Regions from separate parts of the Homo sapiens genome. Here region 1 is linked to region 2. A link means that fine-mapping ties the variant in region 2 to the expression of a gene that starts in the linked region. Tissue or cell type: nasal epithelium. Region 2 holds a variant in brackets; the other region holds the start of a gene. All regions are shown on one strand. Distances are between the middles of the regions.

Region 1 (4,402 bases), 40 kb after region 2:
TTTTCCTTTCTGTGTGCTGCCTCTTCCTCCCACACCAATCCCATGTTGGCCATTTTGCCCTATGGTGACAGAGAAAGAACTCTGTAATCATTACCCTAAAATATATTAGCAATTGAATTTTAAATCTTTGAAGACTCATTGTTGTTAAATTTTAAAAATGAATACATTTTACCTTTGGCTAGGGTTCCCAGACTCTCCTTTTGAGGTCTCTCCATTCTTCATCTATTTATTGTTTTCAAAGTTGCCTACCACTTGTGTTGAGATTCCACCCTTTCCTCCTGTTAAAATAGATAATTTGTTAAAGGGTTACAGGATAGTATAAAAGCACATGAAGTTTGAGGCCAGCATATCTGAATTTATTTCTCCATTCTGTCATTGAACAAGTTTTCTGACTTTTTGCAATTTTTTTTGAGTATCACCTCTCTCTAATCTCTAAATTAGGAAAAATCACCTCATTAATTAGTTGAGAGGATTAAATAAGATATTATTAAGCCCCAGGTACTTAGTGGGAAGCTTAAAACAATAGTTGCTTTCTCCTACTTCTCTTCATTGGCATTGAGACATAAATTAGTATCAGTCATTATGGAGGGCATCGCTCTACAAATATTTTGTGACCTATGCATATGTATTGGAATTAGGTATCAGACACTAGTGAAAAAGCGTGGGAGAGAAATAATTTTCGTACTTCTTGGTACTACCGTAAACGATTTCTGCCAGCATATGGATAACTTTGTTTCCCACAGATAATCCTAATCCTGATCATGGTGGACACAGCTCTCCTTATTTTCCTAAAATTTTCTCAGTTGTTATTGATAATGTTGGTACTGTATTTCAGTTTCTTTATATATCAACATTAAATATTTGCCTGTCACCAAAATGTGAAGTAAAAAGCAAAAAAAGTCCTATAAAAGGTTTATTTTGACTGTTTTTATTTTTTCACGTGGCGCATCTATCAAAGAGCATTTATTTACTCATGGCAGGGGAGGCGTATCAGGGAATCAAATCTAATTTAATTTCTTAACTTTTAATTTTTCAAAGTTGGGATTGGAAGAGAGGCTGAGAAAAAACTCTCTTGGCTGTTTTAAAAGCTAAGGATTAGTAGCAATGTTCTGACCTGAAATTTAGGTCTTGTGATTTCTTTCCAAGAGATTTTTCACTGCATGAAAAACCTGTTTGCAATGGCCTTTTTAATTTAATTCAATCTTAATTGGATACGAACCGTAAAAATCTAAGGGATTGTTAAAAGGCCTAAAAGTGCACAAAAGTAGTTTTTAAGAGTAATATTAATAATCTGGAAGTGAAAAATTAACTTTGCTAAATTACTGAACCTTTCTACCTAGCTTCTAGGTTCATTTTGTATTTCTTTCAAATTTTGAACGTTTCAAGGACGGAAAATTTCATCCTTAGAGCATACGCACTGTTTAGGGGACGGTTCAGCCATTTTCAAAAGGAGGCTAAGCTTTGTGTTCAGAGGTGTATATTTTAGGAATTCTCCACGTGGCTTAATTACGAGCATGCCTTGATTGTTAGCAGAGGTAAGTCAGGCTTCATCTTGTAATGAGACCCCTTGGAAAAAAGTCTGCTGCTGAGGCACCAACACAGGGTGGGTGAGGGCCAGCTTTCTAAAACGGCCTTTCATAACCTGGCGAGAATCACTGAGCGCTATGAGGCCACCGCCTGACGGAGAAGCCAATGCCCAGAGGCTTTTTCTTTCGCAAGAGATGTAAATGGCCGGCTTGGGGGAATAGGTAGGGAAAAGGGTTCTTTGGGTCACCCATTTTTTCTAGTCCCATTACTGACTCTTGGAGAATATTCAGATGGTGCCAGGTAGCACCATGCCTATTATTATTCTCACTGAGACAAAAGTCAGCGGCTGGTAACTGGTGTCCATTCTTTCGCTTGAGTGGGTTGGAGAAAGACGGCATGGCTGGAGGAATTTGTTTTGTTTTGCTTTGGAGCGGGCTTCCTCAGTTGCATCCTGCATCGGGCGGGCACAGCCCCGGGCTCTGGGAAGACGCCGCTCGGCAGCCGCAGTGGCCGCTGCATCAATGGGTTTTGGGGCAGGGAGGTGCGGAGCCCAGCCTGCGCTCCTGGCTACCCCTCCGCGCCCCGCCGCCGCCCACAGCCTACCCTTCTCCTCTGCAGCCGGTAGGCGGCCGTAACACGGGCGGGCCGAGCACGTGGGCGCCTCCGTCACACCCTCACACATACACACACGCGCGCGCGCACACACACATACGCATGTACACGCGCACCCGCACCCGCGCGCCTGTATCCCGTGCTGTTTCCCTGGCAGACACACAGGCGCTCACGAGTCTCTCCTTGCCAGCCTGCAGGGCGGCGACCCCCAAAACCCAGCTCCGGGTCCCAACCTAGGCAAGAAGCTGCTTCTCTGCCAACAGCTCCTCTTCGGCCTCCGTCACAGCCACCTGGACCCTACCCTTTCGCGACTGCTGCTGCTGCTGCCCGGACGTGGAAGCAGCAAGAGGCGCTTGGTCAAGACACACTGACGGTAATGGCAAGCGCCTACGCTAAGGGCACAACTGGGGGTGAGGTGGGGCTCGCCATTAGCCACCCAGGAGCCTGGGCACCAGCACCGGGAACGAATTGATGGATGGATGCCGGGAAGGACTCGCTGCGTCCTGGGGTGGGAGGAGGGAGGGCAGCTCAAAAGCCCTGGGAGGGAGAAGCTGGGCTGGGCGGGCAACCGTCTAACTCTGCATCTCTGTACAATCAGGGTGGGGGGCGACAGGCTGCACATGTAAGGGGAAGCACATGGGTTGAAACGTGCCGCCATCCTTTCTTCCCGTCGTGGAAATTGCCCACAGCATCCCCAGAGACCTACTCGTTTCCAAGCCAAGTCGGGGTTGGTTGAAGGGTGGGGTCCAACACGGGAAAGTCCAAGAGGAAAGTTGGGAGGGTTGGGGCAGAGAGAGACGCGAGGTGAATTGGAAGCTAAACCTCGTGCAGGTGGGCGATGGGGCGGGGAGAGCAGAGAGCTTTATTCCTCATTCGCTTCCGTTCGCTTTAGCAAAGGCAGAAGGCGACTACCGAGGACAGAGTGTTTTCACGTGACCACAGTTCCCCTTTGCTTGAGGTATCCTGTGATAAATGGCCCGAAAGGGGGCCTTTCGCCGTACGAAAGGCACGTGGCTGCTGGAGAAATCACGGCTCCTGTGTTTCTGCGCATCCTGGAATTTGAGAGTGTGGCGGTGAGGGTGGTGCTGCTGGGACTGTAAGAAGATGGGAAGCAGTTAGAAACCCAGATCGTTTCTACCTTTCTTTCACTAGGCTGGTCTGTGTGTGACTGGGAAGAAGACGGTATTGAGTACAGGGAAATCCTTGCACTCTAACGTAGCGCACCAACTGGATACATAAGAATGAATCAAGACGCCCGAGGCGTTCGGGAACAGGCATGACCCACCCAGTGGCACAGGCTGCGGGAACGGGAATTATTTTTCCTGAGCTGAGAAGCAGCCTTTGATGTGCGTTTTAGGAAGCAAAGCCCCCAGGCTCGCGCTCTCCAGCGTCCCGCTTTCCCTTTCCATCCTCCTCCCTAGCTGGGAAAGGCTGGAGTAAGACGGGGCGGGGTCCGGACTCCGGCGCAGTGACGTAAGCAGTGTTTGGGTGCTTATGCAAATAAGTCTGCGACGGTTTCTTCTGGTCTTGCCGTTTTCCCCTCCAGATCTTATAGGTAGACCCAATCTTAGTCTGCACCATCCTTGCGGTTCACTACTTAAGACGTATGGGAGAAATGAAGGATTTGCTTTATATGCTGCTTTGGGGCTCCTCATCGCCCATGCTGTAAAAGCTATTTTCTACCTGTCAATGCCTGATTGCTTTTCTGCTGTGCCAGCAACAAAGTGTTTGTTTTGAGGAATTATTATGTGCAGACACAGCCCCAACAAGCCCCTCACCCACCCAACCTCATTTCTGCAAGATCATTGCTGAAACACAGACCTATTTATGTCTTAGGCGCCCAGTACTGGGCTTGACTTGTACGTTCTTAATAAATACTTAATGATGGACTAAATCTTCTTTGAACAGTGTTAGGTTTTGAAGGGAAGGCGAGGGTTAAAGACACACACACACACACACACACACACGGAAAGAGGGCGGCTCAACAGCAAATTCAGGCTTTCTGTCCAGCATAAATCCTACAGAAGTGGAGGACCAGCCTAATGCCGGAGCCCGCTGCCGCTTACAGGCTGGGGCCATTTATAGGTACGGGCAGAAGGGGTCTGAGCAGTATGGCTTGCTGCTCCGCGGGATATTAATAAGATGCTTCCATGAAGAGGCGGTTCTGGCTCTTGTTCCGGCGCGATGTCGTTCTGTTGTTCAGGGTGTTCCTTGGACCTTTGTCCAGCAAGATATGATAGGGATGTCTCTTTAGTTAGGCCTT
Region 2 (4,338 bases):
AATAAACTAGTTCAAATGACTCATGTGCAAAGTTACGTTACAGTGGAAAAAAATGTAGAGATTGAAATGTAAAACATATACCCAAGGATCACGGTGCATTTAAATTCTGATTAAGATATTTTAAACCTTTCTGTAACACTAAACATATAAAATCACGGTATGCAAAACCTGGAAATAAAATTTTGAAATACATTTAATGTGTTATCATATGCATCCCTTGTTAAGGCTATGCTACTTCTGAGTTTCTTGCTCTCCGAATTTGAATAGCTTGGAATGATTAATTTGTGAACTAATGAAAAGTGAGAAATATGACCAGGGAGAAAAGGAAGATGATGAAGGAAAGTCTTTTATGAACTTCTGATGATTACTTCATTCATGCTTTAATTAGATGCAATTTCTGGACAATCTTTGTATATAACCTAATTATCTAAGAGAATTAGATGACCATTAGTTTTACAATCTTAATATGTGTACTTATGTCTTATGATTAAATTATTATTGATTCTTGAACATTTTAATGAATAAGCATTAAATTGAATTTTTTCAAATTGCTCGAATTATGAGTTAATATAGCCTATCATTGCCAAATATAATTAGAAGAAATTGAGTTTTAAAAATTAACAAAATAATCTTAAAAATCAGTCATACAGGACTGATTGTAATTATATTTGTTGTTCACATTATCTTCTTATCTCTGGTGCCATAATCTAAGATTAACATAAAAGGGTAAAGAGAAAAAAGAATGAGAGGAAGAGAAGAGTAATATAAGTATAAAAGGTTCACAATGCTTGTCCACAAATCTGAAATCCAAAAACTGAAAGTGGCTTATGACTAATTTAGACAAGACGTGAAGTGAACTGAAGTGAGACTATTTATAGTCTTTATGATACATAGTGTGAATGTGTGTGTATACATGTGTACACAAATACCTGTATATACCTGTGTATCAGTATATCTATTTCCATCTCTCTAGCCAACCATTCATCCACACACTTTTTTTTGTTCCAGAGATTTTTTTTCTTGATAATGTAGTGCTGTCCTAGGCTCTGCTAAGCTTATTTCACAGTATGTAACATGTATACGGCCTTCCTAAAATAATACAAATGCTTATGAAATACTTGCGATCCCAAGCATTTTAGATAAAAATGGTGGGCCTGAACATACTGTTTTCTGGGTAAACATGTACTAACTCTTACGGCAATCATGCTCTTGGCAGCAGTTACTGCTTCATGTAACTAGAAATCCAGAAGTAGACCAGGCTGCAGAGGTGCCCTAAGTATCTCCAACATGCTTCTCTGCAATTCACCACCTTCCTTTCACCAGTTTCATTTTCATTTGATACAAACGAAAGGATACAACATTTTGTAAGGTTCAAAGCCATATTACAACATCTAGAAGAGGTGTCTGAAATTTTTTTGTAGAAGTCCCAGTGAAAATGTATTCTAGGAATCCCAATGAACTTTCATTCATGTGTCAGTGGACAGAATTATATCATATGCTGTGGTAATTCCATAAGCGAATGGGTTAGAGACATGATAAAAATAAACACTGACAAATTCTATAGAAGTTATATTTTGCTGTGATAAATGTAGACAATATATTTTCAGCGGAGGGTACTGAGAAAGCACTGAGACAACTGGGATGTCTAAAACTGACATTTTCCAGTTTTCCTGGTCATGTTGGCAATAGTATTCTGTGTGTTCTTCCAGATTGTGACAAGTCCTAAGAGTGGGCTTAGCAAGGGAGCTACCTTAGCATATCACCCTGAAGCTCTAATACACTTAATTTAAAGTGTTACCATAATTGATTCTAATAACCCATGTCACCTGGATCTAAAATGTGAAATTTAGATGTATTTTCTTAAAATGCAATGGGGACTATCTTTATATGTCTTGGACACATTACAAACTAGTCACTAGATATCACTCATGAAGAGTGCCTCATAGGTTTCATCTGTCTGTGGGTATGCATTCTCTGATGTTGCCAGGAGACACCAGATGCCACTGCCTGACCAGGATCTACAATTCTACATTCCCACGCTTGAATCAAACCTGGTTTCTAAAATATTCGTCGGATAGATAAACGCAATATTGTAATTAGTTTCCACCAATAATTCTCAGTAATGGCTGCACTTTAGAATGACCCTAGAAATAAAAAATACTGGTCAGAGGCTATGAAGTGAGGCCCTAACACCATTAGATTTAAAAAAAAAA[A/C]CAAAAACCTCTCCTGCTCATTCTAATGTGCCGTCAGTGTTGAGAACGAGAAGCTTAGATTACTCGCAGCACCTAACTGAGCTGAGATGAATTCTACAAACCAATGGGCTAATGTATTGGAAAGTCATAGATAATGGAGATAACCAAAATGTCCAATATAGTAACATTGCTTTAAACAATTCTTTATTTAACAGTATAAGTTTACCCAAATCAATGTTTGAACAAAAATCAACGTAAAATATTTTGTCTCATTTCTTTCTCGTTAATAATTTCTATTAACTTTTGTTTAATTCTATTATTCTTATTAAAAAAACATTTTATGTTCTCTGGGTAGTCTTATACACAGGCATTTATTAGCAGAGTATTAATTTGCTGTAAGACAGCTTATTAGTGGATAAAATAAACCTTTATGAGATTCTATAGAAAAGCCACTCATTTTCCTTTTCTTAAAAAAGTTTTTTCTCATAAATAAAATTTTGGAAAAAAACGATGTTTATACTTTTAGAACTACCTATAATGTCTAATTATGTGCACCTCACAGAATAATTGAATAAATTTTATTTTATTGTAATCAAACATATTTTTTATTTTACATCTTCATAGAAAATTCCCCAGTTGAAATCTCACAAAAAGTGCTTTACAGTTGTGTCTAAACAAAGGATAAAGCAGACATCTGTTAAAATAATATTGTGCAAATTCTATGTTAAGTGAAACGGATAATTGCAAAGTTTTCCTTTTACTGTCTTCAGTTAATTTAGGTAATTTATGTAATTAGAGTAATTTATGTAGACATTTTTTTCAATTGTAATAGAGACAAAAATTATGAAATGCATATCTCAAGAGCACAGTTAAAATAGAAAGAAAAACTCTGGGCCATATCCCAACATCAAATTGAGAAAACAACAAGCTAAACATATTGTACAGAAATAGCATTGAATATCTCAAATCTTAATGCCAGTCTCCATTTAGTCTTTAGGAGTTATGAAATTAACAATTTTTTTTTTATCTGTCAGCTGTGCTTTCTGGCTACAAAAAGAAAGCAATTTCATAGTTGCCAATATAAAAAAATAGAAGATTCTACAGTCTTGAAGAAGTCTAAATAATATAATTATTTTCTTAGAATCATTAAATTAATTGACATTTAATTTTTATTACATTAAGGTGAAATTGTCCTCTTATGAGAGTATTTCCACTGTGTGTGTGTAATTTTTAATTTATCTATACATTATCCCTCTATTCCTTCTTCATCAAATTATTCATCTGTTAGAAACAAAGTGTTTTTCCATTTGGCTTTATATGCACAAATTTAATTGGATAATTATTTAAGCCATGTGAAAAGTCATCAGCCACACAGTTCTCTAAAAAGTGCTAAAACCATTCTTTTAAAGATGCATATCACACACCATAACAATAGAGTCAGAAAGACAATGTTTAATTGTATTTTATAGTTTCAAATAAATTTATATATTTCATGTAAAAATCAAATTATTTTCTACTTCATACCCAATTTTTCATATTCTAAATACACTCAGGGCAATATATAATTTTTGATCACTTGGCATATATCAAAGATTTAAATCCAACTTCCACAAAACATACTTCTTATACATTTCTACTTATAGAAATGCTGTATTATCTGAATTCCAAGAGGAATACGAAAAAAAGTTGCTTTGCATGGATCACTTAAAATTCCATCAAAAATCAAAAATATATAGATATTGCATTCTGACTCCATGATCTAGAAGACAGGAACTCTTTATTTTCATTTTTAACGTTAGCATCCATTATGGTTTTTAGTTACTGCCCCCAAAATGCTTAAGGTAGGAAGAAAAGAAAGGAGAAAGGGAGAGGATGGACAAAGGAAAGGAAGAAGAGAGAGTGAGAGAGAAGAAGGGAAGAAAGGGTAGAAGAGAGGAAGGGAGGAAGGAAAGAAGGAAGAAAGGGAGGGAAGGAGGAGACAAGGAAGACAGGAAGGGAGGGAGAAAAAAAGGAAGTGAGGAAAGGAGGGAGGAAAGAAGGAAGGCAAACAGGCAGATACTTCACATGTGCTCATACTGCCCAGGCCTGCAACAGCATTCACACTCATGTACTTGCCGGAATTCCCTGCATTGCTCAAGATCAGTTT

The links. PIP is the estimated chance that this variant, and not a neighbour inherited with it, causes the effect. A credible set is the group of variants that fine-mapping cannot tell apart.
Region 1: SLC6A15 starts here. The variant in region 2 is the best candidate, but not a certain one, in a credible set for the expression of SLC6A15 in nasal epithelium (TOPMed, PIP 0.62).

Annotation. Positions count from the first base shown.
Region 1 is chr12:84,910,633-84,915,034 of GRCh38, reverse strand. SLC6A15 (solute carrier family 6 member 15) reads left to right here and starts at 2,236. Exons shown (of 12, transcript NM_182767.6): 1 at 2,236-2,512. LOC102724680 (a long non-coding RNA gene) reads right to left here and starts at 2,198. Exons shown (of 4, transcript XR_945154.3): 1 at 2,131-2,198; 2 at 173-278. RefSeq lists enhancers at 1,475-2,021, 2,022-2,569, 3,118-3,666.
Region 2 is chr12:84,951,141-84,955,478 of GRCh38, reverse strand. All of the region lies in intron 2 of LOC102724680 (a long non-coding RNA gene), which reads right to left. Among named protein-coding and RNA genes, the nearest start is that of SLC6A15, 41 kb to the right of the region's middle. The variant A/C (reference allele first, on the strand shown) is at 2,214.